Regions from separate parts of the Homo sapiens genome. Here all the other regions are linked to region 2. Evidence: fine-mapped expression QTL. A gene starts in region 2. Each other region holds a variant in brackets. All regions are shown on one strand. Distances are between the middles of the regions.

What was found. PIP is the estimated chance that this variant, and not a neighbour inherited with it, causes the effect.
Region 1: its variant is fine-mapped to the expression of LINC01310 in amygdala (GTEx, PIP above 0.99). The same link has a PIP of 0.9 or more in cerebral cortex and prefrontal cortex.
Region 3: its variant is fine-mapped to the expression of LINC01310 in tibial nerve (GTEx, PIP above 0.99). The same link has a PIP of 0.9 or more in cerebellar hemisphere.

The regions. Positions count from the first base shown.
Region 1 is chr22:48,834,298-48,842,474 of GRCh38, reverse strand. No RefSeq gene overlaps it. Among named protein-coding and RNA genes, the nearest start is that of LINC01310, 28 kb to the left of the region's middle. RefSeq lists an enhancer at 4,879-5,406. The variant C/T (reference allele first, on the strand shown) is at 3,598.
Region 2 is chr22:48,863,188-48,871,364 of GRCh38, reverse strand. LINC01310 (long intergenic non-protein coding RNA 1310) reads right to left here and starts at 4,595. Exons shown (of 7, transcript NR_038944.1): 1 at 4,518-4,595. RefSeq lists enhancers at 1,573-2,072, 2,073-2,574.
Region 3 is chr22:48,890,477-48,898,653 of GRCh38, reverse strand. It overlaps LINC01310 (long intergenic non-protein coding RNA 1310), which reads right to left. Exons shown (of 7, transcript NR_038944.1): 4 at 5,522-5,988; 5 at 4,039-4,250; 6 at 2,511-3,919; 7 at 268-1,856. Among named protein-coding and RNA genes, the nearest start is that of LINC01310, 28 kb to the right of the region's middle. The variant G/A (reference allele first, on the strand shown) is at 3,833.

The DNA of each region.
Region 1 (8,177 bases), 29 kb after region 2:
CGTGGCTCAGGCCCACACGGTGCCACCTGGGCCCAGCTCCCAAGCCCGTTGGAAGCCACCCCCATGCCCGCAGGTGACAGCAGAGGGCGCAGCCCGCACCAGGGCATTTTCCTCAAGACCCTCCTGTGCAAAGACAAGACAGGGAAAGGCAAGAAAACACGGGTTTGGAGATTATCTACTTCTATTTAAGAAAAAAAAAACGTATTTTAGCATAATCCTCTGGTAAGCACTAAACAGGCACCATTAGCGGAAGCTTGGGTTCTGTTCAGAGGAGTGGATGGAGCTGGAACCAGGAGCGAGGTCTGTGGAATGAAAGGTGCCATCCTGCAGCGTGGAGCACCCCATGCCAGCCCCCGCAGGGCAGCTCTGATGCAGGTACAAGTTAGGGGAGGTGCTCCAGCAACACAGCCCCTTCTGTGTGTGGTGGCGGGAGTGAGAATGTGATGTGGGGTCTCACGTGGAGACGGGCGCAGGAACAGCATGGAGAGAGAGAGATGGAAAAGCCACACCCTATCCCCCACCTGGGACTGAATCCCTCTTGTCTGCCAGGCAAGTGACTTGAACCATCCTTTGAGGGAGCTTTGAGGAATAAGACAAACCCTCACTGTGGAAGGCCAGAGGATCCCCTTTCCTCCCTGGAACCATCCCCCAGCTCCATCTGCAGATCCTCCCCTAGCACAGCCCAAGAAGCTGAAGACCAGAGCCCCCAGGATACAGCGGGAGGGATAGAGGCCACTCAGGGGGTCCTGGGACTTGGAACAGCCTGGCTGGAATTCGAGCATTGCTAAGAAGGAAGTTGAGGGGCCCTGGTGTTCCTGGAGTGTGGGTTTGTGGTCCTTCAACGCATCCCTCATATTTAAAAATACCCCTTCCTCTCCCACTCCTGTCCAAGCAACTCTAGATCCTGCTGGCCAGCCGCTTCCTCAGATGAGTTCACTGAAAGCAGGAGTCGTCCTCCCATCCATGCACCCCTGAAGCCCAAGGAGTTCCCGTGACTTTAGCCAGAGACTTGGGCAGCCAAGTCTCTGATATGGTTGGTTTCCTATCTCACCCAAATCTCATATTGAACTGCAATCCCCGTAATCTCCACGTGTCAAGGGAGAGACCAGGTGGAGGGAACTGAATCCTAGGGACGGTTTCCCCCATGCTGTTCTCATGATAGTGAGTGAGTTCTCATGAGATCTGATGGTTTCGTAAGGGGCTCTTCCCCCTTCACTTAGCACTTCTCCTTCCTGCATCCTTGTGAAGAAGGTGCTTGCTTCCCCCTCGCCTTCCACCATGATTGGAAGTTTCCTGAGGCCTCCCCAGCCTTGCTGAACTGTGGGTTCATTAAACCTCTTTCCTTTATAAATTATTCAGTCTTGGGCGGTTCTTTATAGCAGTATGAAAGGGACTAATACAAGTGCCAAAGGGAGGCGAGGCTCATGGGTCTAGGAGACCACGGGGAGGCCAGGGCAGGAGGGATCTGTCCCATCCATCTCCACTCACAGGCCCTGCAGCTCTGCAGGGAGCACTGGGCTCCGGGAGGAGCACATGGAGATTCAGTCTTGGGGGCCGGAGGACAAATGTGTCACTCCCCTAGACCTGGCTTTGTCCCCTTGCCACTCACTCACTCACTGACTCACTCACTCACCCACACGGCTGCATTTCTTCATTCACTCAACACAGTCCAGCCTGGGGGAGCCAGGCCCCATTTCCCTGCTCAGAGCCTGCTCTGTTTCTTCCAGGGAGATGGGCCGATTCCGCGGGTCCCTGACTGCCCGGTCAGCACCTAGGCCCGGTCCCTGGCTGAAGCCCAGAGGCCAAGGTTATTTCACAGGGAAACCCCTTCTAGATGGTGAAGGGGAAAAAGAGGAAATGCTACCCAGTGGGGTGTAGAGGGAGGAGGGCGCCAAGGTAGATGAGGAGTGGAGGCCAGACTCTCTCTTCTCCCAGCTCTTGGGCCCCATGTGGGGGTATGGGCTCTGGGAAGACCCCTGAGAGGGTATGAGAAGCTCCACGTCTCAGGTCCTGGGATGCCCCTGGCTGCCATGTCTCAGGGGCGTCCTGCGTCCTCTGTGCATGGGTGGGAGGGGCAGCTCTGCTTCAGCGGAGAAGTTTCTAGATGTAGATGTGGGAGGGGTACTGCCAATGCTTTCTGCCCAGGCATGGCCAGGATGCCCAGACACCCTCTAGTACATGGGAGGGGCCGTGGGGAACCCTGTGGGAAACCTAACCAGGGGCCATGGGGAACCCTTGGAGAACCTGGGATTGGGGGTGGGCACTCAGGGCAGCAGCATGGGTGGGGGCAGGTTAGTGACGGTCCCCAGATGCGAGCACTGCCAAACAGCCAAAAGGAGGGGTCCTGCCTGCCGAGGCCCATCTGCTGGAGCTGATCCAAGGCCAAGGCTGGTGATGGCTGAGGCCCTGAGACCCTAAGACCCCAGCATCTGCACAGGGCAGTCATCGTGGGTTATCCCCAGGCACCTGGCCTCCACCATGTGAGGAGCAGGGAATTAGGGAAAAAAAACTAAAAGTCCAGGAATTTATGCAAAAGAAGTTGCATCGCCCAAGAGAGATAGCTTGGAAGGAAGTACTGCAATACCAGCAATGAATGACTAAAATCGCCCCCCGCTATGTGGAAGGTGGGAGCCCTCAGAGAGATTATGCTGGTGACAGAGAACAACGAAGCTCCCCCAGTGCCTAAGGCCACCCTTGACCTGTTCTTCACGTGTCCAGCCTACTCTCCCAGCTCTGCTCAGATCTTCCAGCACAAAGCCCTGGACAAGGTAGCTCCCATGTGCCCCCACGGAGTGGACAGCTGCCCCTCACAGCTCTGGCTCTGAGCACCCCCTTCAGAAATGGCAGGGCTGAGCTTAGTGGCTGAGCTTGGTGGCTGAGCTTGGTGGCCGAGGGCGGGGACTGGCAGGGGGAGAGATGGACAGACAGTGTTGAGTGGGACCTCACATCTTGGATGCGGACCAGTGCTATGGCCCAAGTCCTTGCAACCTGTCCGAGAAGAGAAGCCAGGGAGGTAGGCAGCCCCTTCCATCCATCCACTCATTCACTGAATGCACATGTGCCCAGCGCCTGCTCTGTGCCCTCCACAGTTAGGGTGAAGGGAGTACACGGTACAGGGAGCCAAGCCCTGCCCTCAGGGAGCTCATTCTCAGGGGCAGCTGGCAGCTGAGGCCAGCGGAGGGCCCGGGAGGGGCCAACACTGTGGGGAAGGGGCCTGGCAGGGACAAGCACAGGGCCTGCTTGCCACAGATGCTGCTGGGGGTCATGCAGGTGCGTGAGGGGAAGTACCAGGAGGAACACACCTCCACCAGAGCCTGACCATGGGGTAACTCCTTTGTTTCTCTCCTGTCTCCTCATCTCTAGTGTAAACCCAGCAAGACCTGCCTCTCAGGCTGCCCAGAGACCAGGAGTGCACCTGCTGTGCTAGGAGATGACACAAGGTGACTGTGAGGCTGCCACTCTCGTGGTGTTTGCTGTCTTAGGTGACGGAGGCTGCATATGCTCCACCCTGGGGACGCAGGAGCCTGCAAGAGCCCCGTGCCTGTGCTGCAGGCATCCTGGGACGGCGCTGCATCAGGGACGTTTTGCGCCTCCTTC[C/T]GGCCCCCTCTTTCCCTTTTCTCATTCCCACCTCCTTCTCCCAGCTCAGAGGTGTGTGAGTCTCAGCCACTCCCCAAAGCAAAACCCTCATAGTTAGCCAGGGACCCAGGCAGGGGTCTGGCAAGGCCCCCTCCCACCTCTCAGACTCTTCTGTCTCCAGAGGCAGAACGTGCACGTGGGCATCACATTGACTTTGGGGACTTGCCTTCACCCCAGGGCGCTCCAGTCTGGTGGATGCTGACTCTGACCACACCTGGGAACCAGTCTACACCTGGGTCTCAGCTCGTAGTGACAGTCCCTGCCAGCCCCGAGATTTCCAGGGGCAGCACCGCCCCTGAGGTACATGGACCCCACCGCCGTCCACACAGCGCACACCCACACGTGTATCCGAATCTGCGAGCAGCATATGTGCTGTGGGTACAGGTGCTGCAACCTTAGCTGACGGATTATGAAACTGAGCCTGCAGATCTGAGCCCGTTGTCCGAGATCCGTGCTCTCATTTCCTAATCCACTTCCAAAAGCCATTTTCCCATACTAAGGGCAAGACTTTCAGCCAGACACTAGGAGGATTTGAAGAGAAAGAAGCTACAGTCTTTGTCTTTTAAAGGAATCCAATCTTGAAGCCCGAATGAGGCATACGCAGAGGAACGCAGGCTACGAGACAAAATGCGATAATGCACAACCACCAGCTAGAAGACACAATGGAAGCCAAGGCCCCGTTTACGACAGCAACAAAAGAGATAAAATACCTATGAATAAATTTAACAAGAAATGGGCGAGACCTGTGTGAGGACAACTTCACAACATTCATGAAAAAAACAAAAATGGAAATTCACATGGTCAGGAAAAGTTAGTATGACAGTGATGTCTATTCTTCCAAGTTAATTTGCAAATTGAATGCAATCGCCATCAAAATACTAATGTGTTGCTTTCTCTGGGATTAGTCAAGGGATTTTAACTTCAAATGGAAAAATGATTCAAAAATAGGAGAAATGAGGGGAAGGAGGGAGTGGCTAGCTCTAGCAGATATTAGTAATCCATGACTAATCAGCTGTGATCCTGGAGTACAGTCATGGCAGACAGGACGGAGGCACAGGTAGGAAGTCCAGAAACAGCTGAGTCAGGTAAGTCCTTGCTGGGAGTGTGGCCAGGACGCGGTGGGACAGGATGGCCAAGAAAAGGCACAGCCCTGGGGACAGCCCCACCTCGTAGCCTGTGTGTGCGCACGTGTGTGCATGGGAGGACACGTGTGCATGTGTGTGAGGACACGTGGGAGTGTGCATGTGTGTGCATGAGGACGTGTGTGCATGTGTGTGGACACGTGTGTGCATGTGTGTGAGGACACATGTGAGTGTCTGAGGACACGTGTGTGCATGTGTCTGAGGACACTTCTGTATGTGTAGGCATGTATGTGAGGACACATGTGAGTAAGGACACGTGAGTGAGTGTGTGAGAGGACACGTGTGTGAATGTGTGAGGACACGTGTGTGTGCATGTGTGAGGACACGTGTGTACTTGTGTGAGGACACGTGTGTGCATGCATGTGCGTGTGTGTAAGGACGTGTGAGTGCATTTGTGAGAGGACACGTGTGTGCATGTGTGAGAGGACATGTGTGTGCGTGCAGGTGCGTGTAAGGACACATGTGAGTGTGTGTGTGAGAGGACACGTGTGTGCATGTGTGTGAGGACATATATGTACATGTGTGCTATGACGTGTGTGCATGTGGATGCGTGTGAGGACACTTGTGAGTGTGCATGTGTGTCCACATGTGTGGGGACATGTGCATGCCAGTGTGTGCCTGTGTGCACATGCATGTACATATGTGCACGCACACGTGTGTCCCAGGCTGCCCCAAGGCTCAGACAAGCTTCCCCCACAGGAGCTGCCATTTTCCTCCAGAAACAGGATTTCCTCCCAAAACCCCAGGAATTACCGACCCCCAACCCAGCAGGAGACTCCGACAAAACGGCGCCTTCCCCCGCCCTTCCCACCTGCCGCCCCAGACCTCAAAGCAGAGGCACCTCCCACCCCCACACTCTGCACTCCCGGCTGCAGTGGTCCTAGGGCGGCCCTGTGAGTTCAGTCATGGAGACCTGAAGAAGAAACGGGAGGTGACCTTAACATGGTCCCAGTGTCATCTTTTATGGCAGCCCCATCACCCCTCCTTTCACTCCAGCAATGAAGCTGGCAGGTGCCTGGGCATCTGGAACAGGGCTCTGAGTCATTCATTGAAAGAGCAATAGAGCAGATTGCTCGGGGGAGATTGCTCAGGGGTGCTTGGCACTGGTGTCATCACCCTGTGTTGATGGGGGACCCCAGGGCAGCACCCCACGATCTGGGACCAGGCTAGGGCTCTGGTTTGAGACTAGACAGGCAGGGGGAGCTGGGCCTCGATGACAAACGTGGAGAGCACGGCCACGGGTCTGGGTGAGTGCTCAGTGCCCGCAGGCAGGGTGGGTGTGCAGGCTTCTGCCCCAGTCACAGAGGGGAGCACATTACCTGCCCTGCAGCCTCTGCTCTCCCACCTGAGGTTTGGAGCCCACTCCCAGGAGCGCGCACCTGCGCGTGGCTCCACAGACCTGATGGCTGTGGCGACGACCGTGAATGCCACTGTGCACTCCAAGACAGAAAGCAGAATCAGGCGTCAGCTTCAGACCGTCACGGGCACCGAGAACGCGGCTGACGCTGGATGGGATCGGGCTTCATAAGCAGGGCCCCCCACTCTTGCCCCACAGGTCCCCCCACGCTGGCAGGCAGCAGCGGCTGCAGGGAGCGATCAGGACAACAGGCAGGCTGGAGGAGCCTGGAATCCCCGTTGGGATGCCTCGGCGTGGCACCTGCAGCCTGCTCCAACCTTGAGAACACGCTGTGCTGGGCAGAGGATGGGCTGGCAAGAGGCCGACTGTCTCCTAGGGGCTTTGACCAATGCAAGTAGGAGAACTAAGCCAGAGCCCGCCCAGCGAGTCCTGGAAGGAGCCGGATGGGTGGTGGTGCTGGCCTGGCCCTGACCTGGGGGCTGACCATGAGCAAGTCAATTAACAGTCAGGCAAACCTCCATCTAGTGGGCAGGGTCCCGCACAGCTCCCAGAGCTCACAGGGGCGACACCGGGGGTCTCACCATCCACGAGGAGACAGATTACAGGTGCTGCAGGCAAACCTAAAATAAATCATGTTAAAGTGCAGCGTTTAGCAGCTCTCGGCACATGACCTTGGCGTCTATCTCTGTTTCTGAAACATTTCCATCCAGCGCCAACACCCCATGCATAGGCAGCCGCCGATCTGTGCCTACCTGTGGATCGATCTGTTCTGGATCTTTCGTATGAATGGGGCAACACAGCTTGCTACCTTTGGTACTGGCCTCTTCCCCTCCGCACCGTGTCTTGAGGTTCAACCACATCACAGCTGGGTCAGGCTTCATTCCTCTTTGTGGCTGCATAATTCTCCACCACATGGCTCTCCTGCAAATGCACCATCTCTCTCCATTCTAATTTTTAATTTTTAATTTTTTCTTTCAGATGTAGTCTCGCTCTGTCGCCCAGGCTGGAGTGCAGTGGCGCGATCTTGGCTCACTGCAACATCCACCTCCCGGGTTCAAGCGATTGTCCTGCCTCGGCCTCCTGAGTAGCTGGGACTATAGGCACCCTCCACCATGCCTGGCTAATTTTTATATTTTTTTAGTAAAGACAGTGTTTCACCATGTTGACCAGGTTGGCCTTGAACTCCTGACCTCAGGTGATGCACCTGCCACGGCCTCCCAGAGTGCTGGGATTACAGGCATGAGCCACTGCACCTAGCCTCGCTCCCCATTCTAAATGTGACTTTTCTGTCACCATTACCACGTTGAAGAAATTATCCCTTTTTTTAATTGACAATCTTGTGTCCATTATTGCAGAAATGACCCTCAATGACTACAGTGGATTTATGTTATCGAGAGCCCCTTCATATATTTAAAGGATGGTCAAGTGTTTGAAATGTTGTTTGCTTGCAAGTTTTTACTATTTCAAATAAGGCAGAGATGGACATATTTATAGCTAATTCTTTGCATATATCTTTATATATTTTTTAGGACAAAATCCTAGAAATGAAATTTCTAGGTCACGTCACACCCATTTAAAGGCTTCTTATAGAGCTTGAGAAACTGCCCTCCTTAAAGGTAGAGGAAGCAGTTGATGCCTCCTCCGTGGAGCTGTGTGTGAGTTTCCTCTCCGGGCAGTGTTTACCGCTGTGCAGATATGGCCTTTGGGGAGGACGGACATAGCTTTGCAGATGTTCTGATATATTTGCCATGGAATCTAAATATACAGCCATCAATACCAGGTGTCATCTATGTTTTAAAGAACTGAGTAAGTTCCTGTTTTATGGTTGAAACTGAAACTAAAGCCCTTTTTATTACCTTACACTCATATTTCTATGCCAGTCCTCCACAAAATTGTACCCTAATAGATTTTATGTTTCAAAGTTGTTATTGATAGTCCTATTATAATCCCTATAACAATATTCAGAAATATACATATATGTCTATAAATTGATTTTGTTAATTTCCAGGTGCCATTGATCTTTAAATACTAAAACCAATTCT
Region 2 (8,177 bases):
CGCACGCTGCTCAGAATAGGACACCCCCAGATGGATCTCAGGTCCCTAGAGAGACAGCTGGGGGCTGCAGACTGGCTCGGCCCCGGGAGGGCACCAGCTCGCCCCCTCACACTAAGAACCCAGGGTGAGACTGCATCTTTAAAAATAAAAGCCACATCTTGACAAAACAACACCAGTGCATGGACCCTTGAGAGCCGTTTAATCCACACCAGCAGGAAGCCCCCGGCACAGGGTGTGTGCTCCCGCTGCTGCTGGAGGAAGATCATGCAGACACACGGGCGATGTGGAGGTGCCACGGCCCCCTGATTCCGGGGGCACGCCATTATGATGGAAATTTTGGCTGAAATGATGGTAATAGGTGACCCCTCTACAATATTAGAGACAGTTAAACCATCTGTTTTTCCATCTCAAGTACACATTCGATTTTATATGCATACCTGCATGGAAAAATGACTTCCAACAAAAGAGCGTTTTCATTATGTCAACTGGCTTCTGGGCGCACATTTTGGACGGTCATTCAAAACACATTGGCAAATTTCCCCTGAAGGAAAATGTGCCGCTTGGTGGCTCCAGCTGCTCAGGCGAGGAGGAGCCGACCTTCAGGGCCTGCCTCAGGTGCCTCAGCCTAGAGTCCCAGCCCCTGGCACAGCCCTTGGCCCTGACGTTTCTCCCCCGGCCCCCACAGGGGGGCCCAGGGTGTGTTCGGTTCTCTTTTGCATCCTCAGCAACAGCCAGGTGTGCCTTCACAGCGCAGCCTTGATTTCCATGACAAGTTAAACCGTCTGCCCCTCCGTAGAGCTTCAGGCCCATGAGATGAGCAGGGCGTAGGGCAAAAGAGCATTTGACAGCATGAGAGTCTGGCAAACGCTGTGTTTTAGAGGGATCAAGAATGATGGCGAAATCAGGCAGGAGACGTAGTTCATGTTCCCTGGGAGCTTAGCAGAGGAGGACAGGCACCCACCCCAGGGGCACACAGACCACACCAAGGCTGCCTGGGGGAAGCAGGATGGAGCGCACTGCGGAATCTACCCGGGAGGATGATGGGAGAGCTGAGGGTGGGGACTGAGCAGATGCTTGTAAGGTGGAGAAAAAATAAAAGAGAGAAGTCTCCCTGGCAGGAGGCAGGGGGAGGACCAAAGCAAGATGGTGCAGTGCCTTTTCAAGGAGTAACAGGCAAGAAATAGTAAAAGAGGAGAATGAAAAGTTAGGAAAGAAAAAAAAAGAAGGAACAATGGCCTAACCAATGTGAAAGATCACTTCTCTCTCCTGCACAAATCGGGGGGTGGACAGGGCAGAGAGAAGGGGAATGGAATCCTCCAGGGCTCAGGCCCCTTCTCTTACTATGCTTGGATCCTTACTGAATTTGCCTCAGGGTCCAAGATGGCTGCGTGTGCACCAACCATCACGTGTGCTATCCTGGAAGAAGGGGCCCTCCCAGAATACCGCAATACTTCTGCTGACCTCGCCTTGGCCAGAACCTAGTGGTCTGGACTGATCTGACTGCAGAATAGGCCTGGAGATGGCCTCTTCTAGATGAGTGTGTGGCCATCCTGAGTAAGATCATGGCTCTCTAAAAAGGAAGGAAAAAATGATGCTGGAGCAGCTACTGTCAGGAGGCCAAATTATCATGGCCACCAAAGGCCCAGCTTAGAAGACAAGCCAGTTTCAAGTTTATTAGGAGCAGGCAGCACAGGCTTTTGAGCATGAAGGTAAAGTGGTCAGGTCTGACTGTCAGCCTGGAGCCCTGGGGGCCAGGGTGGAAGGTGGACACAGGGCAGTCAAGCCAGGTATTTGCGCACAGATATACTGAGTGCTATCGGGCCCAAATGCTGTGCCAGTCCAAATAATTAGACAAAAGAATGTCTTGGCAAAGCCCGTTCCCTTCCCCGCTCCCTCCTAACCTGGGAAATAATGTCCCAACCCACCGGTTTTCCAGGACAACCAGCTCCCCAACCGTATCCAAGCCACCTCCCAATTCTGACAGCTCCCTCCCCAGGGCCCCGCAGGTGTGACAGCCTCCCTTTGGCCCCACAGTCTCGTCTGGTCCTGATCACCTGGGCACTGCCATGGGCCCTTTGTGGGCCCGTGCATTGCATGCCTACAGGCCTGTACCCATCCCACAGCCAGGACGCCGGGCAGCTCCACGACCCAGAGTCCCTTTGTAACGTCAGCTGCACTGGAGGTAGATTGCCAGGTAAATTTCAGTACCTAAGTCCCATATGAATTTCAGGTCAACAACAAATAAATTTTGTTATAAGTTTAGCCCCAATATTGCCTAGGACATGCTTAGACTAAAAATAAGTGCCTTGTTTATCTATAATTCAAATGTAACTAATCCTCCTGTATTTTGACTTGCTGAACCCAGCAAACTGAATTTGAAGGGTGTTTCCTGAAACTATTTGAGTGCTCCTCAGCCACATTCGGTTTGGAACAAGGAGCCAAGGTCCAATTTCCAGGCAAAACCAAATGGTGCCCTTGCTCCCACCCAGGGACGGTGCCAGGAATATGCCAGCCATCCCTGGACCCGAGAGTCACCAGGCACGGGCCCTGCTTAGGGGTTGATCATCTCTGAAACCTTCCAGGAAGGACCACTTTGGAGATGTCATCTGACCTCCTTTCCTGGGAAGCTGCGGGCCTGAAGCCATCTTCCAGGATTTCTCTCTGTAGCTGTAGAGCTAACTAACACCAGGCCTCCGGGCCAGGAACTGGCAGAGGATTCTGAGGGCATTTTAGCCTCAGGCAAAGCCTCCCTGACCCCCCATCTGCAGGACTTGCAAATGGACACTGCTTCCAGCCCTCCTGATGAGGACACGATTATTCTTCTCCACTGGTGCCAAAGCAAAATAAAATTCCATTTGCTTTTCTGACACATTAAACAAGAACATTAGGAGTTCTGCAGGGGTGACCATATTTTAATATGCTTGGAAACCGTGGCAGGGGAGGTTCATTCCCTTGCCTGTTTGTACAGGAGAAACAGTGAAAGAAATCTGAGTCAACCAGGCTGCAGGGAGTAGAAGGCTGAGACTTTTTCTTTTTTTTTTTTTTAATACAAGGTGGTGCGTAAAAGTAATAAAGAGGTCACAGGGAAAATCTGTATCATGATGAATCCAGTTATTGCAAAAGAGCTGTTTCCTTCAATGTTCGAAAGCTGATAATACACGTGCACAGGCGTCTGCTTCTAATTTCAGGGAAGCTAAGCCCAGGAGCGACCGCTTTGGAGGCCATCTGCATGGAGCTGGCTGTCACCCCTGGTGCACGCGAGTGGTGGGGTCTGTACCCCGGAGGCCCTGCCCCACCAGGCAGGACGAAGGACAAAGCACTCCTTCCCTTCTCCAGCACACTCTGTCCTTTGCACCCCCTCAGGGTCGCACAGGTCATTCCTGCTTCCTGGAAAGACTCATCCCTTCAAACTGCTTTTTAAGCTCCTACTCAACCCTCAAGACCCATCTCACAGAGACCTTTAATTACCTAGGGTTGAGCTAGTCCTGCCTTCCCCTGCAGACGGCCCCATTATGTTCCAGGCAGCTTCATTCACAATTGTCTCCTCTTTGAATGTGGCTTCCCCAGGAGCAGGGACCAGTTTAATTTGAGTCCTGTCCCCCATGTGTACCGTACAGTAGGCAGAATGTGGTGCTGAAGTAATTAATGTCTCTAAATATTGAATCCTTCCCACAACCCCAGAGGAGATCCAATTCTGATGTCAGTGGAATAAAATGCAGTTCAAGTTCAACTTGAATTGATTCAGATGGTTTTCAGCACAGCCACCCACCGTTCCCAGGCCCCGGCCCCTTGGCTGGCCTCTTCCGCTCCAAACCGGTGGCTTCTTCCTCGGGGAAGGTGCTTCAGGCAGCAGGGGTGCCAGGACAGAGGCCTGGAAGATTCTGTACTACGCAGCATGGGGGCCACATTCTGTTGCTGGAAGGGAGTCACAGGCTTGTCCAGCTCAAGCGCAGGGTCAGTGAGAGTCTATCCTCACACTGTCAGAGCCAGCTGGGCAGCATGCCGGGGCAGCTGTCCTCCAGACGGGGACTCAGAAGCTTTGTGCTTTAACTTCATGACACCGGCATCCAAGCTCACAGCTCTGGGCCCCACAGTGGGCAGGGAATGGACCGCAGGGTTGAGCCTTTGATCACAGTGCTCGTGCTTCCCCCTGTGCCGTTGCAGGCCTCAGTTTCCCCAGCTCTTTTGCCTGCACACCTGGGTCCCACATCCCCAGCCTGAGACAGGATCTCCTTGTCACCGTGGCTCTGCCACGTCTGGAGGTTTCCTGACCGCGCTCAGGCACCTCTCTTGGAACCTGTTTCCGCATCAGCAAGGACAGGCGAGGCCAGGGAGGAGGAAGAAGCTAACTCTCGTTAAAAGAAAAACTTTACACAAATTAAATCTAACAGAGTTTAACTGAGCAAAGAATGGTTCGGGAATCAGTCAGCCTCCCGAACCAGAAGAGATTCAGGGAGATTCCGGCACTGCCGTGGGACCAAAGAAGATTTATGAACAGAAAAAGTAGGGTGACTTACGGAAGACAGAGCGCAGTCCAGAAGCAGCCACTTGGCTCCAGCTTAGGGTCTGTCTTACTTGATCAGGGAAAACTCGATGACTGGCACAAGAGTAGGTTACAGACTATTTACACGTCCAGTTTGGTACAGTTCACTGTGTACAGAAAGACTTTTTTTTTTTTTTTCAGAAAGAGTCTCGCTCTGTCACCCAGGCTGGAGTGCAGTGGCGTGATCTTGGCTCACTGCAAGCTCCGCCTCCTGGGTTCATGCCATTTAGGCTGAACTTATGTGAGGAGGCAGCTTTAGGCTAAGCTTATCACTCTGAATTCTCAGTGGCATGTCGGAGTTTGCAAGAAAGGTGGATTTCCCATTCATGCCAACTCCTCCAGCATGGCTACAGATCGCGGCTCATCAACAACTCACACGTTCCTCCCAGGTGTTAGGGCAGGACTCAGAACTGGAGGTCCGTGCACTGGCTCGTCTATGCTCCAGCCTAGAAATGTCCCCGAGGCATGGCCAGAGTCCTCCAGGCTGGGGAGCAGCGGAGGCCAGGCCATGCCAGATCTGTCGTCTGGGTTTAGCTTCGTTGCAGTGAGTGTTTACAGCTGAGTGGTGCTCTGGTGACCGTTGCTCTACAATGATCCCTCTGGCAGCTCCACGGAAAACAGCAATAGTTGTCCAATTCAGGAGTGAGTTTCCACATCCATCCCTGCTAAGGGAGTGCACAGTGATGGTGACTGAGAAGCTCCTCAGAGCACCAGTTCTGAAGTCACACACGTTGGGTTTGGGACTGGGATCCAACAACTCCTTGTTGTGGGACAGTGTGCAGTCCTTGTCTGGTGACCCCACTTCCCGGTCTGCAAAATGGGATCCTGAGACCTGCCCCTCTTAGGGCTGGGAGGACCCGACCAGCAAAGCCCACACGGCCTCAGGGCCAGGCAGGTCCCAGAGTAAAGGACGTGCCAGCGTAATTGTTGCCCTGGGTGTTGTTAGTGATATCACTGAGAGCTGATATTTTCCTTTCTCCACTGCCACCTCCACGAAGACAGCACACATTTGCTTAAGAAATAGCAGCTAGAGCTTGGGCTGAACTGTGAAACATAGCAAGTGTGCTATATCAATCAGAGAACACTTTTCCCTGGCACCAGTGATTTCTCGGAGAACTGTGAGCCCAGGCATCAGCTGTGATTCCATGAGTGATGGAGGGCCAAGAAGCAGAATGACACCAAGGGACCTTTTGTAAACACCCGCAGGAGCTCTCTGCATCCACGACAGGAAAATAAAGACACAAACTCTTCTCTGAAATTAGGGAAAAGGAAATAGAGAAAGTAGATGAATGCTTTAAGGAAATTTTTGAAGATAGAAAACTAAAAAACTATTAATTTAAAAATAAATGAAGTACACAAGCTCTAAATAATGGCATCTTTCCCCCAAACTGTCATAGAAGAAAAGCTAATGTGTTATTTTAAAGGATGACTCTCAGATGACCCTTTAAATTCCATTTATATTCTAGTGATTAAACAAAGCGATTTATTAGAGTTTTACAGAGGCATTTTCTCCCTGTGTCTTACAACGCAGACCACATCAAAAGCACCCATTTACTGCCATTATTTCAATACTGATTTTATTTTATGATCTTGATTTGTGATTTATAACTTTGTTTTTCTTGAGATTCCCGTCTTCATGTTGTTGGACCTGTGTGTAAAGCAGGAAGCAGCTCCCTCCCTTGGATGTACTAAAATAGTTACTGCTTCACATGCGTGATGCTCCTGGCTACCTTCCTGCCCCTGATACAAGCCATGCCGAGGTGGGGAGGGGTCCAGCCCACGCAAGCAGGGAGGGAAGCCTGTGGTCTCCCCATTGGCAGAGGAAAGGGGTGCGGACGCAGGCACCTGTCCCAAGAGGGAAGAAGGCAGATTCAGGATGGAATTAGCAAGACATGCTCCCCGACTGATTGTTACTTTCAAGAAAGCAGCCGGCCGCACTGCCAGCTTTGATAATTGACTTTATTCTACCATTGATGGATAAATTGACTGATAGATGTCAGACAGAGGCATGACCGAGGTGGGACCAGGTTTGTGCAGAAAGAATGATCGGCTCTACTGATTCAGTAAAATTCATAGTTTCAATAAGCCACAAACACACACCCCCCAAGCACTAAACACACAGGCACACACACGCATGCACACGTACATGGGTACACACACACACACACACACACACACACACACACACGATACTTTCAGGAAGAGCTGAGTTCATGATTCCAAAGCTGGAGGAGTGTCTCAGATGTTTCCTTCTGAGACCTTGGATGACTGGCGTGGGTGCCGGGGCATGGGGGCAGCTGCTGGCCCATCAGAGACAGGCCTGCCCATCAGGAACTTATATAGAAACCACAATGTGGCCAGGCTGGATGTGCTGTCTTTGCCTTAATCCCCAGCTTCATGTGCCCCAGATTCTACTGTGACCAGGACTGGCCTCTCATACAGCACTCAACCGAGCCCAGTGTCCCCAGCTGCGTCCAGGGTCGCCAAAGTCCCTGCTCTCCTCTGTGCAGGGAAACACTCAGGCCCCGCAGGTGCCAATCTCTTCAGGAATAGTCAGGAATAGCACAGGCATCTGCTCTGGAGCCTCAGCCTTGAGTGGTCCATGGAGAGGAGGCGGTGCTGGCCTGCACACCATTCCCTCCTGGAAGCCGATTGCTGGGAGGCTCCACCTCAGCCTGCTATCCAGATCCATGCTCCACCCAGCAGTCCCCATGTGCCTTAGAACAAGGTCAAGAGAGGTATTCATGCCCAGGCCATGGTGAAAACCCGTCTGCTTGTTCTCTTTAGTAATTTCAATTATTTTATTTTTTTGTGAAAATTACACATGTGCATTAGGAAATTTTTTTTTAGTACAGAAAGCAACATTATCACCCCAATCTCATCCCCCAACAGGAACTTGCCTTCATACAAGGAAACAACCCCAGACGGCCTCCACCAGCCAGGTGGGAGGTCAGTGGGAGGAACAGCAGGGAGGGTGGGAAGTCCTTCTACTCATGCTTTTAATTAGATGATTTATTTTAAATTATATTTAATATGAAAAATAAAGTAAAACAAAGGGAATGGTCGATCTTCATTTCTTTACCATGGAAATGTTCATTTCTAAAGATCTTTTTAAGAGAAAAAAATAGAAACATTGAGAGTTTGATAATGAGGGTGTATGAGTGAGTGTGAGTGTGCCTGTGTTCTTATTTTGTTTTATTTTATTTTATTTTTATTTTTATTTTTATTTTTGTTTTATTTTGAGACAGTCTCACTCTGTTGCCCAGGCTGGAGTGCAGTGGCACAATCTCGGCTCACTGCAACCTTTGCCTCCCAGGTTCAAGCGATTCTGCTGCCTCAGCCTCCCAAGTAGCTGGGATTACAGGTGCACACCACCACACCTGCCTAATTTTTGTATTTTTAGTAGAGACGGGTTTCACCATGTTGGCCAGGCTGGTCTCGAACTCCTGACCTCACATGATCTACCCACCTCGGCCTCCCAATGTGCTCGTATTCCAGGCATGAGCCACCATGCCTGGCCATGTGTTCACATTTTATTTGCTGTCTATTCACTGAATTTGCTGTGAATGAGGAAGAAACCAGCCGGTTTTCCCTTCCTCTCACACGTCAGTGCTTCTTTCGGATTATGTTAGTT
Region 3 (8,177 bases), 27 kb before region 2:
GATGTCTGGGTCCTGTCTGGGCCACCTGGTGCTGCTCTGAGAGCCAAGACCCCTTCCACTGTGGGGCCCTTTGCTGTCCTCCAACGGGAGCCCCTCAGAAGGAACAGGCTTCATCGCGAGGGGAGACGGTGCACTGTGGAAGGCTAACTGATTCTAATGCTTTTCAGAACATGAAGGATTAAAATTCTAACACTGCCTGTAAAAAACCACGCGCCTCCAGTAGAAAATAACATCTCACAATTTCCATCTCAGGCCGAGGATGGTGCATTATAGGAAATGATACAAATTGAATTAATTTTCATTCTCATTACAGGGATGGGGTTACAAGCTGCCGTTCTTCTGGACACGGGGTCCTTGGGAGTCAAAGCGGCCCCAGCACAGAACTGTTTTCTCCCAGGACCCTGACGTCCATCTTGCAGGAGATCTGGGGGTGGGGGGCACCCAGGGAGGGGCAGAGCGGGTGGCAGGAACAAACCCACAGGGGGTCAAGGGGAGCGCCTGGCCTGGGACCCTGTTACCTGCAGACTGCTGGTAGAACTGGCTTCCCTGCGGGCCCAGCACAGGAGGGTGTAGGGATGGCCCTGGACCATCCGTCTGCAGACACAGACATGCAAGATGGACCTGCTGTTTCACTCCACTGACTGGAAGAGAAGATGAAGCACCAGCCCCAACCCAGCCATCACAAAAGTACCCCCAAGAGCTTGAAGGTTTGAACTGTGCTTGGGCAGGGGTGGAGGCCTCTGGGGCCTTGGAAGTTTGAATATCCCTTCTGTCACCTCTGGAGGCCCACATGTCACCAGGCCAGCCTAGACTCCACCATCAGCCGGTGGGGGGAGTGGACCACTTGCAGGGGATGGCCCAGCCCAGACTGGCTTCTGTTCCCCGTGGGCCCAGCAGGGCATCGGCTGTCCCCTGTTATCAGAGGAGGGTCAAAGCCAGGCAGGGCCCTCATGTCCCGGGGCGGCGTCTTCTGTCTGTGGAGCCTCCAAGGTCAGGAGGCTGGAGCCATCCTCTCCTCACCCAAAGTGGCCAGGACCCCAGGCAGCCCTGTGGGGCAGAAGCCGGGCAGGGCAGGTAATGGAGGGCCACGGCTGAGCCGGGAAAGCATCCTGAAGCCTTGCCTCAGACCCGGGAGCCCTGCTCCGGAGAAGGAGTCAGTGAGACTTGTTATACACGGTGACAGAGGCTGTTCAGGTCCTTCCTGATGGTACAGGGACCTGGTGATTTTCACCTTCTGCCTTTCGTGCTGGGGAAGAGGCTACAGGTTTGCTCTGGCCGAGGTGCGTCCACAGGCCTGAGAGTGCAACCACTGGAAGGCAGTGGAAGGCGCGGAGTGTGAAGGAACAGGCATCTGCAGGGGACTCTGGCTTCACCTGTGGGACTAATTTTTTTTAAATGCTGTTTATTGTTTGATTTGAAGCCAGCGCTGGTGGACGTGGGGTGCCAGCTCCTGAACACCTTCCAGCGGAGAGCGTCAGACCCAGATGGCGGCGGAGGAAGCTTTGGGGTTGACAAGCCCCTGCATGAAGTCGAAGGACTGTCCCCCCTCTCCCCGGGACAGCAGCCAAAGTGGCGTCTCCTCTTCTCCCGGGAGCCGCCGTGGGAGGCCGGCGCTGTCCTGGATGCAGCAGGCGGGGTGCAGGGGTCGTGCCGCTGCTGCCAGGACCTTTTGTGGCAGCATCGATTGCTCAGAGAGCGACCACACTTGGCTGCGGCCCAGGCAGCGTCTTAGGAAGGCATGTTCATTACATCAGATGGCCTCCTGCTCTGGGGAACCTTCCTCCTCCCCATCAGCCTCCACATCTTTTTGAAGCCAGTGGGAAAGGCTGAGGCTCCCTGGCTGACTCACACACTGGCTACAACGGAAATGAAATGAGAGGTTGCCCTGTGTGAGAACACCAGGATGCCGGCCTCACCCTTCGCCCCTCAGAGTTCCCACCACGCTCACCCCCTGCAATTTCAGTTCCTGGCTCCCATTCTCCCATAACGCTTCCCATAACGGATTATTTCAGTGTCTGCTCAAGCGTCCCCTCCAATCCCCTGCCCCGCACATCCTTTACCTGCTTTTCTCCAGTGCTTATATCTGCCACTGTCTCCAATAATGGTGTCCCATTCCCCCTCGCTCTGCCCCGACCCCCTCTGCTCCTGCCATGTCCCCCCTTGCCCTCCACCCCATCACCTCCCACCCCTGCCCTGTCCCCACATGCCCTCCACCCCCTGCCCACTGCCTCATGCCCTCTGCTCTCCACCCCATCCCCCCCGCCCTCGACCCCATCCCCCCTCTGTCCTCGACCCATCACCCCCTGCCCTCCGCCCCATCCCCACTCTGCCCTCCACCCCATTGCCCACTGCCCTTCACCCCATCACCCCTCTCTGCCCTTCACCCCATCGCCCCTTTCTGCCCTTCACTCACCCCTGCCCTCCACCATCCTCCCTCCTCCCTCACCCTCACCGTTTTCACTGACTTTGGATCCCACAGTTCCTCCTGAGCCTCACTCCCACACACTCACCCTCAAACACCCGGGTGCTGGAACCGGGCCTGTGTGTCTGGCAGAGGCTGAAGGAGCAACACACATCCCCAGTGGAACTGACAGCGTAGCGGAACTTCAGCCCCAGCTGGATTCCTCGTCCATGGTTGGCATCAATGGCATGGGCTGGAATTCACCTGGGTTGATTCTGGCCCATGTGGCGCAGGTGCACCTGTGCTCTTCTGCAGGCCTAAGGCCTCAGTGTATTCCCTGCCCACGGGCTTCATTCACTTGTCAGCATAGATGCAGCTTCGCAAACTGATCCCAAAGCTAATTTCTAGAAATATCGATTCTTTCAGCGACCTCTCCACTACAGCCTAAGGTATCTCACAGGGAGGGAAGTCTGTCTAGAAGTTTCGTCTTGTGGGAGGTTCCTGAAATACTGTGGACCCCTGTCCTGGCCGTGTGTCCACATTGCCCGTGATAACCAACACTCTTATCCCCTTCCCGCCTCCAGCACGCCCACACCACCTGTCCCTCTCTCCTCTCCCAGGTCTGAGAAGTGTCTAGAAGCCAGGCCGTGTGCCTGCCACATCCTGACCTGTGTCCCATCTGCCTGTCGTGGGCCTGTCCGGGGTGCAGTCAGGAAGGGTCTCCTGAGCCCTCCTGGATGTCCAGGCTCCTCAGCGGTGTTTCCCACATCCACACTTTGAGGGGTGTGACTGGGCAGGACAAACCCCTGTGCTTTGAAACCAAGCAACCCAGGTTCAAACCCAACTGAAGGGCTGTGGGGTCAGGTGCCTTTCTGAGCCTGTTATCTGTAAGGGTCGGGGTGGTGGGAGTATCCCTCCTGCCTCCTACACAGAAGTGGCCAGGGCAGCTGAGATGGGAGATGTGCTGTTCCGAGTGAGGCTCTGAGAAGGAGCTGGGTGAGGAGTGACGCAGTGAATGTATGGCTGATGTCACCTTGCTGCATCTGCACACACGGCCTGGGGTCCACACCACCGCCCCCGTGGCCAGGAGTCTGAAGCCTGAGGGTGCACATGGCAGCTGCCCAGGTGGAAGGCGCCGGGGCCTGTGAGTGGGACCCCCCCAATCCTGACTGCTTCCTGGGGTCCAGAGCACAGAGAGTAGGGTCTGGTGCAGCTCACAGGGTGGGTGGGTGTCCAGCAGCCAGCTCGCCTGGTCCCCACACTTACCCAGCCTTCATGTCCATGTCCCCATGTGGCCACCTCCCAATGCCCAGCGTCTGGGGCCACCTGAAAGGGAGTGAGGAACGCATCCAGGCGGGATCGCCCTCCCTGGGATCTTCTTGGAGGGAGGAAGGAGTGTGGCCGTGTTACCGGAAGGGGACTCAGCCTGGG[G/A]AGCCGGTGGCTCCATCCCTCGATCTGTGGCATTGATTTCTGTCACAGGAATGCCGTGCCTACTGCTGTGGTCCCAGGGGAGTCTCTCTGTCAGCAAATGCAACACAAACAGGATTTGTTAACAAGCTGCTATTATACCTGGAGATTGCGGCTCCAATGGGGTTTAGAATGAGGAAGAAAAGCCTGGGTGCTTGTCCGGGTGCTACCTTTGTCCCTGGCAGCTTGTCACACGGAGCACAGGGAGCTGGTGTGCTGCTGATTTCAGACAGGGGGCGCCACGCCCAGAATGGCCGCCCACAGGAAGGGCACCCTACGGGGCTCAACACAGAGCGGGGACTCCACGTGGCTTCCTCAATGCTCCTGCAGTCCACGGTTCCTCATTTTGATGGAGGAGAGGATGAGGCCCAGAGAAACAGGACTTCAGCAGTTCAGATGCGAGGCGGCCAGAGGCCACATGGAAAGGAACAGGGAGGATGTGAGAGATTGTCCCCGGAGGGAGGCAGGAGGCATCGTCCTGCAAACGTCCTGCAGTCAGGGCCTGAGGCCGGACGCTGCCCAGGCAGAGGGGCCTCTGGGAGCAGCGGTTCAGCCCCTCACTGAACAGACAGGGCTGAGGCTCAGAGATGGTGTGAGGGAGACACTGCCCAGGGAAGAAGCGGAGGCCAGGCCGGTGGTGACCGTTCCTGAGGATGGGCTCTGCCCTCGTAGGGAGGCCACCGAGCACCTGTAATGACTACAGCCCTACATCGGCCCCTGCAGGGTCCCAGCCCTGGCCTGCCCCGGGCTCAGCTCCCTGTGCCTTGGGTCTGGGCTGCCCCATCGCAGCTCCTGCTTGCCAGGGTCTGTTACAGTAGAAGCTTCTTACACTCAGAAGAGAGTGCAGCCATGGTGAAGGCCTGAAGGGTGCAGGCTATCACCCTTCCTTGCTGCTTGGAAGAGCAGGGGCTTCCTCTGCCTCCCCATACCCTCTAGAGAAAGCACTGCTCATGTCGCCAGCAGGAGTGGACCTCACTCCTGGGACACATGGGCTGGCCCAGCGGGGGTGGACCTCACTCCTGGGACACATGGGCTGGCCCAGCGGGGGTGGACCTCACTCCTGGGACACATGGGCTGGCCCAGCGGGAGTGGACCTCACTCCTGGGACACATGGGCTGGCCCAGGAGACCCCTCTATCTGCCACCCTGCCGACACCACCCAGCACAGTAGAGCAATGGGGGCCTCCAGCAGAGGAAGGACGCAGCTTGCCCGAGATGCATCTCTTACTACAGAGGGGTGTTCTCCCTCTCGCCCTCCCTCGCTCCCTCCTGTTTCCTCTCCTCTGCCTTCTTGCTCTCCCTTCTCTTCCTCCCCATGACAGAAGAACATGTCCACACCCAGGTCTCTGTCCACACCCGGGTCTCTCTGTCCACACCCGGGTCTCTCTGTCCACACCTGGGTCTCTCTGCAGTGCTCTGTCCACACCCGGGTCTCTCCGTCCACACCCAGGTCTCTCTGCCGTGCTCCTTCCTGGATTTTGCTGGGAGTTCTTCACTCCCTCCTATGATACCTGATCCTGTGTACATGCTCAGTGCCCTCGTCCTGTGTGTGGTCAGCACCCTCACCCTGTGTGTGGTCAGTTTCCTCGTCCCTGTTTGTGGTCAGTGCCCTCATCCCTCTGGTCAGCACCCTCGTCCCATGTGTGGTCAGTACCTGGCACTGTTTTCTCCCTGGATTCCAGGTCGTTGGTCTCACTTGGCCTTGAGCATTGCTGTCTGGATGGGTCTCTCCTGAGCACCCTGCCCTCGGGCTCCAGTTTCCCGCTTCTCCAAAGTCCTGACTTCCCCATCGTGAGCACCGGTTCTGGGTGCTGCCCACAGGAGTAGGTGCTGTCTGGGTGGGCAGTGCCCATTGATGTGGGGACTGAGTGCAGGTCTTGTGGAAAGATCAGCAGGGGACACCCTTGCCTGCTGTCTCCTCCCAGCTGGGCCCCTGGGGTTGGGGAAACGGAGACACCATCCCCCCAGAAGTCTGTTTGGCTCCAGAATATGAGGCCATGCCACGCAGGGCATCTTTAGAACACCAGCTACTGTAGTGCACAGGGATCACAATGCCTGCCTCCCGCTCTCTGCTGGGGAGGGAGTCCGATTCTATCCAAAACAAAGCATGCCATTGAACAGCTGGGAAAAAAGGGAACAGGAATTATCCAACACCATCTAGCAAAATGAGTTCCGAGTGACCCCTGCTTGCCCGTGCTGTGGTCAGAACACTCGCAACCAGCGTCTGTGTGGTTGGAGGTTTGCTGCAGACCTCCACCCCCAGCATGTAGCTCTCCTGGGATACAGTGAGGGGAACCACACACTTTGAAACCTGCAGACTTTATCCGTGACAAGTGTGACATGGACGACCAGAAAGTGACCAAGCTGCTCCTGGCTCCAGTTCCTCCCAGCAGGTTACCTGCTGTGCTGAAGGAAGCAGTGCCCATGTTGAGAAAAACACAGACCAGTGAACTCTGGAAACACCTCTTTCCAGTAAATTCCACCAAGTCTTCAGCCTCACCTCCTGCCTTCTGGGTCAGGATGGCAGTTCTCGACCAGACCTCATGCCAGCTGGCCTCAGACCCACCAGGAGGAGAAGCCCAGGCTTGGCTGCCAGCTCTCTGCCAACCTCCAGTCACTCACTTCCTCTTAAACTCTGAGATACCCTCGAGTGCAACTGAGCACATGGCTCTGCCCAGATAGAGGCAAGCTTTTCTGGACTTTCTTGCAGCGTGGTGTGGCTGTGTGATTAGGTCTGTCCCATGGGACCTAGGCACAAGGAATGGGCCCCATTTCTGGGAAATGTTCTTCAAAGTAACGGGCATGCACTCTCTTTGGCCCATTCTTCCTTCCAGCTAGCTGGGATGCAGATGTGATGGCAGGAGCTAGAGCAGCTATCCTGAGCTCAGAGTTTGAAGCCATTTAATGAGGTAGCAGAGTCACCCTGCCAGCCAAGCACTCCCTGCCTTTGGACTGATAAACGGAGGCTTTGTTACCCTGTGTTAAATGGTGCCCTACATCATAAGAGCAGTGACTGATCAGAGACAAGCTGGGAACTGCCCCAGGCTTCCACTCTGACCTTTTACAATAAGTATGATGTGGACAGCACCCAGAGGTGGAAATGCAAAACCACTTGTCCCACTGCTCTTCTTCCTCAGAGATCCCAAGAAATGGGACTGGCACCACCAACACTCCAGCCCCAAGGGCAGCCACATGCCTCTCTGGCACAGGTTCCTCTGGGTGGTGATGGGGGAACCCACCCTCTTCCGTTTGCAGCTCCCCCATCTCAGCCCTTAACTTCCAGCCCAGCTCGGGAATGGAAGAAGGAGGGAGTGAGGCACCGGGTCACAGTGATCTTGGGCCCCACACTGCTTCGCTCACCTTTCACTCAGGAAAATCAGCCATGTGCCCCTCCCTGGAAACTGGGGATGGTGGGGAAAACATGGATATTTGGGGAGCTTTGTAGGGCCTCATGATTCTACTGGGAGAAAGTGACCTACTCTACTTCAATATAAAACCATTAATGTGTCTCCTAAGATGCTGCTTGGTCTAGAAAACCAGAAAAGAAAACTGAAGGAGGACAGTTAATTTACACCAAAGTGAGAGACGATTTGCTGATAGGAAAACTAGGCAAGAAGACACAGCATTTAGATACAAGCAAGTTTCCACAGAGGCTCATAGACATCTCCATCAGAGAGGGGCTGATGATACCCACGCTGGGGGCCGTGGAAATAGGGTGACATCACAGAGGAGCGGAGCGGTGGGCAGGGTGGCACGCTTGGCTGTGGACATTTTTTAAAATCCCCAACTTTGAACAAAAAGTGAAAAAGTCTACGTTTGTTATTAGGTTAGTGGTTGTTCCTAGTACCCAGTGGGTAAATGTTGGACACACATGTAAAATGCTCATTGAGACCCCCACACGGTCAGCAGCCCCTTGTTCCTCCATCTGGTTCTGCCCTGGTAAAGAACTTGAATGTGAATGTGACTGGCCCACAGCCTGTACCCCTCTCCTGTCCGCCAGTGACCCACCATCCCATCAGGAGGCCAAGACACCCCCCACGTGAGAGACAACAGAGGCTGGGAATGCTGCCCCACCTCCATCTTCCCTCCCCTGCCTGCCTCCTCCACAGCTGCTGCCCCAGGCTGGAGCCCCAAGGCCTCCTCCTCCTCTTCTGCCTCCTTCTCATGCTCTGCCTGCCGTGGCCACCTCGCAGCCCCTGGCCTCGTGTGGAGCCCCTGCTTGTCCATCCTGCTGACTGCAGGTAAGGAGAGAGCCTGGGACGCCCTGCGACACTGGGCAAATCTCTCAGACCCCCGTCCACAAAAACAGC